Homo sapiens: one gene and its partner. The protein of the gene in region 1 interacts with the protein of each later gene in a pairwise test. Each region holds a gene or a part of one and is shown on either strand. Other genes may lie near its edges.

Region 1 (3,753 bases):
AATGATCTCCCATTCAGTAAATGGTCCTGGGAAAACTGGCTAGTTATATGCAAAAAACTGAAACTGGACCCCTTCCTTAGACCTTATACAAAAATTATCTCAAGATGGATTAAAGACTTAAATGTAAAACCCAAAACTATAAAAACCCTAGAAGAAAACCTAGGCAATACCATTCAGGGCATAGGCATGGGCAGAGACAAAAATGCCAAAAGCAATGGCAACAGAAGCCAAAATTGACAAATGGGATCTAATTAAACTAAAGAGCTTTTGCACAGCAAAAGAAACTATCATCAGAGTGAACAAGCAGCCTACAGAATGGGAGAAAATATTTGCAAACTATGCATCTGACAAAGGTCTCATATCCAGAATCCATAAGGAACTTAAACAAATTTACAGGAAAAAGACAAACTACCCCATCAAAAAGTGGGCAAAGGATATGAACAGACACTTCTCAAAAGAAGACATTTATGTAGCCAACAAACCTATGAAGAAAAGCTCACCATCACTGATCATCAGAGAAATGCAAATCAAAACCACAATGAGATACTATCTCGAGCCAGTTAGAATGGCAATTATTGAGAAGTCAGGAAACAACAGATGCTAGAGAGGATGTGGAGAAATAGGAACGCTTTTACACTGTCCGTGGGAATGTAATTAGTTCAACCATTGTGGAAGACAGTATGGAGATTCCTCAAGGATCTAGAACCAGAAATACCATTTGACCCAGCAGTCCCATTACTGGGTATATACCCAAAGGAGTATAAATCATTCTGCTATAAAGACACATACACACATATGTTTATCGCAGCACTGTTTACAATAGCAAAGACATGGAACCCACTCAAATGCCCATCAATGATAGACTGGATAAAGAAAATGTGGTACATATACACCATGGAATACTATGCAGCCATAATAAGGAACAAGATCATGTCTTTTGCATGGACATGTATGAAGCTAGAAGCCGTCATCCTCAGCAAACTACCACAGGAACAGAAAACCAGACACCACATGTTCTCACTCATAAGTGGGAGTTGAACATTGAGAACACATGGACACAAAGGGGAAACAACACACATCAGGGCCTGTTGGGAGGTTGGGGGTGAGGGGAGAGAACTTAGAGGATGGGTCAATAGGTACAGCAAAAGAAAAAAGAAAAACAAATTGACAGAAAAAATGGTAACAAAAATAAAAATAGGATAGTTTCCTTTTGGCTTACCTGAAGTGGCTATTTTAGCTATTAGTTCAAATATTTGTAAATTTTAAAATCTATCAAATTTTCTAGTGACAGCATGTGGAAGAGAAAGTTATTGAAAAGTCAGTTAGCTAATTTTTCAGACTGCAAATCACATATGTAGAATTATGGTTGTCTAGAAGTATGTTGTTTATGTTTATCATCAGTATATTTTTATAAGACAACTCATACATAATTAGAAGTAGTAACGGCTACATAAAATAGAGCATTTTCATTTAAAACAATTCTGATGGGGTAGCATGGAAGGAAGAAAATTTTGGTAGAATTTAGCTGGTTTCTAAGGAAGAGTAGAAGAGAAAACTGCCTCAGAAAAAATGAATAATGTGCCTGCAGTTTTAAACCTGAGTCTGAATACGTACATTTTGCTTAGAGCTGTGTGGAATCTGGGAAGCAAGTCTGTGTTTTCACTTTATGCACTGTTGGTTCTATTAATGAAAGCCACCAGGTGACTGGCAGTTTTCGGAGTCAAAGAAGCCTGTGTGTAGGATCTAGGGAGTCAGGTTTGAAAAAAAGATGTCAGCGACTTAAGACCCGTGTCACGTGACTCCCTCTACTTGCCAGCACTGAGGCTGTGGATCAAATTTCAACTCCAGGCAGTCCTTCCAGCCATGTGGGTTCAGCGGAAAGAGAAGCAAAACCACTCTTCCTAAAATGTTAGAAGCTGCTCTTCGCTTACCTTGGGGCCTTTGCATTGGGAGCTGTTTTTCACATCAAAGAATATGTGCTGAATGGAATTTTAGTATTTTGCTGTCGTTTTAATATTTTCGTCTGGTCTTCCTCAGTTCTTCCAGACGCTTTCTGAGAGAATGGGGGCAGGAGCTCTAGCCATCTGTGTAAGTATAGGCCTTCTTCTGTCTTCTGTGTTTACTGCCAGTTTTTAGGAGAGGGCCTTGCCTTCCTTGTTTTGATGAGATGTTTGTGTAACTTATTTTTCCTTCCCAGGAGGTGGGGAAAGATTTGTTACTTAAATTCCTATCTACTTAAATGGGTATTAGGCAGGATTTGGGATGGCATTCAGCATATTTGTGCACTTTAGTTTCCAAAAAAGGTGAAAGATGCATGCTGATTTATTCCGTTAAGTCAACTTGATTTAAAGTAGAGCACTTTCAAGCATTTTAGACTTTCTTGTCCCTGAATAGTTAAACATGAATGCTTCATTATAGCTATTAGAGAAATCTTGTGGCTAGCTTGAGGAGGAATTGAAGTAACCATTAATTTATTACTTTTGAGTATGTGTGTGACATTTTTCTGTTTTATATTTCTATTTTCGTTTAGTAATTCTGGAGTTTCTGTTTCAGCATGATTGCTGAAAGTGATGGTGGAGAAGCTCAGTTGATAAATGTTTGTGTATCCTTAAACTGTAGAAATGAATGGTTGTTATAACACAGTAGCATTAATAAATAACACTGAAATAAAATCCTTGGGAAAATGTGCATATTTCTGGAGTTTTAGAATTTTTAGAATTTATGAATTTCTAAATTATTCTGCTGGTGCTTGTACAAAACCTTTTGTAATAATCAAAAATTGTCAATTATATAATTTGCAGAATGCTGTAATTTAAATTTTGATTGTACTATATAGAAAATGCATATATCTGTATGAGAATTACACATATTTATGTTTCAAGTTGCTATTGTATTCCATAGGGACATTTTATTTTCTAGAATGTATTAAATGAGAAATATCTTCTTCCTTATTATCACCTTAACTGCTCACTTAAAAAATCACACTCAGGCCAGATCCTCTTTTTTTGTGTGTGTTTCAGAAAGAGCTGCAATTTGCTGTAGCTTCTGATGGCATTCTGAAGTGTTTAGAAATATCTGAGCAATTTTTGACACACAGACACCAAATGGTCACCAAATGGTCACCAAATGGTAGACCAGCCCTATAGATTAAGTTTTCTTAGTGAAACTGCAGGATGACCTTGTTTCCAGGCTCAAAACTTTTCAGCACCATGTATGTCACTCTGTCTTCCTTTTAACTCTGAGGCTTAGTAGCATCCAGGTATCCATGTGGTTATTCTTTTTTTATCACCCCAAAGAGTTTCCTTCAAAATCTGATTTATCTATGTGTAAAATACTGACTTTTACTTTACTGCAGAGGTGGCCCTTCTATTTTTCTAGCTTTATAAAAGAAACAATACAGAACTGAAAATGTGTAGAATGAGGCAGCAGATAGGTCATGAAGATTGGTAGTCATCTCTGATTGTCTGATTAGATCTTTACTTCTTTCCCTTGACCTGCAATATATTGATCTCTACCTTGACTGGAATGCACACTGACTCATGTATAAAACTTTATATTTTCCCTTAATTTATATCCAAAGCATGTATAAAATTTCAGTTAAAGTTGACATAAAAATCACACAGTGTAAGAGATTATTCACTCTGGTAGATGAGTAATTCTCAATCATTTCTACCCTTCTCCTTAAGGTTGGCCTTTGATTGTGCTGTCTTGGTTTTACTGTAGGAGGAAATACATTTTCAACAGTTGTACCAT
Region 2 (3,753 bases), on another chromosome or scaffold:
AGCCAGGAGGGGAGAGGTACAGAACCGCCTGCTTCAAACCCTGTGTAAATATTGCTCTTGTCACAGGGAAGGCGCCTTGTTTTTCCAGCCCTCCTGCTCCCAAGCCTTTCCCTAAATATCCATTCTGAGATTACACAGCTGCAGTGTGCATGGAATGAAAAGGTATCTGTGCTTGGCCGCCAGAGCGCCCAGTATCCTGACCTTCTGAACAAAGCAAACCTCCCTCTGTTTTTAATGGGTGAGTTTGCTGTATCTCTTGGCTCAAGCTTTAAATGGTCCATTCTGTAGATTTTGGAGTAGGGGAATGTGGAGAATTTGGGGCGGGACCCTGCTGGAGGCGGCTTGAGAGGCTGGGAGATAGACCAGGGAGCTCCAGATTCTTTGGAGCCGCTGAGCAATTTTCCTAATGAAATGGTCCAGGAACCCCAGTGTGCTCGGGGTATACCAGAAGGGCCTCCTTCCTTAACTGCCTTGAAGAACAAGCAGTGCTGCGTTTAACATGCATTAAACTCACAGGAACTGAGCTGGACATATTTGAGGGGGTGGGGGAAGACCGCCACGCCCAGAGATGTTTTGTGGTGTCAGATACAGGTTATAGCTAGAGGCAGTGGTGAGAGACTTCTGCTTGTGGATTTTTTTCCTTCCATCTTCTCTCAGGTAAGTGCTTTAGCTCCAAGTTGGACAGACTTTATGTTTAAATCCCAGTTCTGCTGGTCCCCAGCTGTGTGACTCCAGATGAATTATCTGACTTCACTGTGCCTCTGCTTCCTTTCCTGTAAAACAGGATTAATAACAGGACCCACCTAATAGGCTTGTTTGGAGCTGTAGAGGAGGTAACAGCCAAGTAGTAGCTCTTGTCCCATAACCCCTGCTTTCTCTTTTCCCACCTCGTCTTCCCTGCCCTTTTGGGCCCTCACAGTCAAGATGAACTGATTTTTGGTTGGTCAAAATATTGCATTAGGGCCAAATGGGTGCGGTGGCTCATGCCTGTAATCAAAGCACTTTGGAAGGCCAAGGCAGAAAGATTGTTTGAGGCCAAGAGTTTGAGACCAGCCTGGGTGACATAGTAAAACTCCATCTCTACCAAAAAAAAAAATTTTTAAAGACGAACTTAGGAATGAAACAGCTTGTTAAAAAATGGTGGAACTTTCCCCTGCAGCCACATCATTTCAACTTCACTTTAAAAATATCTTTTTGGCCTGGCACAGTGGCTCACACCTGTAATCCCAGCACTTTGGGAGGTGGAGGTGGGAGGATCACTTGAGCCTAGGAGTTTGAGACCAGCCCAGGCAACACAGCAAAACCCCATCTCTACAAAAAAATTTAAAAATTAGCCAGGCGTGGTGGTGCATGCCTGAAGTCCCAGCTACTTTGGAGGCTGAGGCAGGAGGATGGCTTGAGCCTGGAAGATTGACGCTGTGGTGAGCTGTGATCATGCCACCGTACTCCAGCCTGGGCAACAGAGGAAGACTTTATCTAAAAAAAAAAATATTAGTAATAAGGCCGGGTGCGTTGGCTCATGCCTGTAATCCTAGCACTTTGGGAGACCAAGGTGGGCAGATCACTTGAGGTCAGGAGCTCAAGACCAGCCTGGCCAACATGGTGAGACCCCATCTCTACTAAAGAAATACAAAAATTAGCTGGGCATGGTGGCGAGTGCCTGTAATCCCAGCTAATCAGGAAGCTGAAGCAGGAGAATCGCTTGAACCTGGGAGGCGGAGGTTGCAATAAGCCAAGATCATGGTACTGCACTCCAGCCTGGGCAACAGAGCGAGACTCTATCTCAATCAATCAATCAATAAAATATCTTTCCTTATCATCACCTTACAGCTGCTTCCTGGATGGACACACTGTCTCCTTGTTGCTCACCTCCCGCTTCTTCCCTACGTAGCCCCAGGCCTCAGAGCTGCTGCTTGAGGGGCTTCTTGGCTGCACAGATTAGATACCATGATGAGGTTGAGATAGTGTTGGGGGTGGACCTTGGGGCAGGAGCCTCAAGAGCTTCCAGGAACAGCTGGGTTGTGTTTGAGAGTTGCACGATAGCAGCTCTTTTGTTTTTATTGATATCCAGAACAATAATTCTTTCTCTGGACTAGGAGCTATAATTAAACCAAAATATTTCCCAGCTGGGGCAGTGTCTAGGGCTCTGGCAGAAGCATAGCCCTGCATGGGGATGCTATGCCAGGCATGCCCCATAGAGGGCACTGTAGCAGGCATGCGCCAGACCTGATGACTGAAGGAGGCTCTCCCTGGGCCAGCTAAGTTGTCTCAGGGCTGCAGTTAGGGGATCTGAGGCAGCTCCACTGCCCATCCAGGGGTCAAGAGATGAGCCTGGCACCAGAGCCATGCAGACATGGTTCAAACCCGGCTCTACCACTTTCTGGTTGTGTAGCGTGACTGGCCCCCTCCCTGAGCCGCAGAGTCATTTGTGAAGCAGGAATCACGGAAAGGATTCCATACCACATGCGTAAATGGTGCTGTGCACAGGACCTGGAGCCGGAGTGGGGTACGCATGCCCCGTCAGCGGGAGCTGCTGTTCTGTTCCTGTGCTTGTTGCTGGAATTCACGGCAAAGTGGGTGGGCTGGCAGGTCACAGTGGCTGCACCCGGTCTGCAGCACAGTGCCTGGGGTGAGGGCTGAGGAGGAAGGGAGGAGATGCTTGGCCTCCCTGGCTTCTCCAAGTCTACCCGGAGAAGAAAGGACAGTCAGAGGGGCCCACGCCTCCCCCACACCCCTGGAGGGAGAGCTGGACTCTGGTGGCTGAAGCAGCACTTCAGGCTCACAGTGTGACTCAGGCTTCTTGCCCTCAGCCACAATGGCTCATGCCCAGAGGAGAGAACAGGGTGTCCAGGCTGTTGGTGCTTGTGGGCGAAATGTCAGCCATGCTCCTCCTGCCTTGGCCTAGAAAAGGGAGCCCCCACCCCGCAGGGCCTGAGGTTCTCTCTGCCAGAAGTTCAGAGCTAGTGCCAGTGGGTTCCCATGCCACCAGGGTGAGCCCTCTGTAAGGGGATCTATGTGTGTCCCTCACCACGGCCTCAGTGCTCCCAGGAAAGCCCTCCAAGTCATCAACACAGCATTTTCTATTCCTTTCTCCCAGGTATCCAGTCGGAATTCTTTATTAACACCACCCGAGCAGGTCCAGGGACATTATCCGTCACCATCGAAGGCCCATCCAAGGTTAAAATGGATTGCCAGGAAACACCTGAAGGGTACAAAGTCATGTACACCCCCATGGCTCCTGGTAACTACCTGATCAGCGTCAAATACGGTGGGCCCAACCACATCGTGGGCAGTCCCTTCAAGGCCAAGGTGACAGGTAACGAACAACCACCTTCGGAGTTACTCTCCCTTCCTGGGGAGCTGGTTGTGTCAGATCAATCATAGTGGAAACTATGGATGGTTTTAGATGTGTTAAAGCTACTTTGAACTTTGAATGTCAGTAAATAGTATGAGATGTCAGAGGGCAGTGTTTGAAACTTACAAAAGTCCACAGAGTGGAGCCGTGCAGAAGTTGAGAAAGCATGTTAGGATGTTAGGTGGTTTTCTATCTCTAACAGGAAAGAATACATATTGAAATCTTACGTATTTGTTTAGATCAGGGTCTGAAAAATCCCCTGATTTCTAATTTTCACTTGAAAAATAATCAAAAAGTTTTCCTATACTTATAAAAATGTGTCTCCTCCAAAACACTGGAAAAAATACCAAACTATGAAAACCACTTCACAGCCACCACCCAAGGTAACCACCATAAAC

The links. The genes of interacting proteins can lie anywhere in the genome.
Region 2: the proteins of FAM13A (region 1) and FLNB interact in a two-hybrid assay, tested with the Homo sapiens proteins (one study listed by IntAct).

The regions. Positions count from the first base shown.
Region 1 is NC_000004.12:89,055,273-89,059,025, reverse strand, and holds the start of FAM13A (protein FAM13A), read left to right. Parts: upstream 1-1,840; 5' UTR 1,841-2,061; coding exon 2,062-2,088; intron 2,089-3,753.
Region 2 is NC_000003.12:58,165,343-58,169,095, forward strand, and holds part of FLNB (filamin-B), read left to right. Parts: exon of another isoform or gene 1-773; intron 774-3,097; coding exon 3,098-3,316; intron 3,317-3,753. UniProt on the Homo sapiens protein: Connects cell membrane constituents to the actin cytoskeleton. May promote orthogonal branching of actin filaments and links actin filaments to membrane glycoproteins. Anchors various transmembrane proteins to the actin cytoskeleton.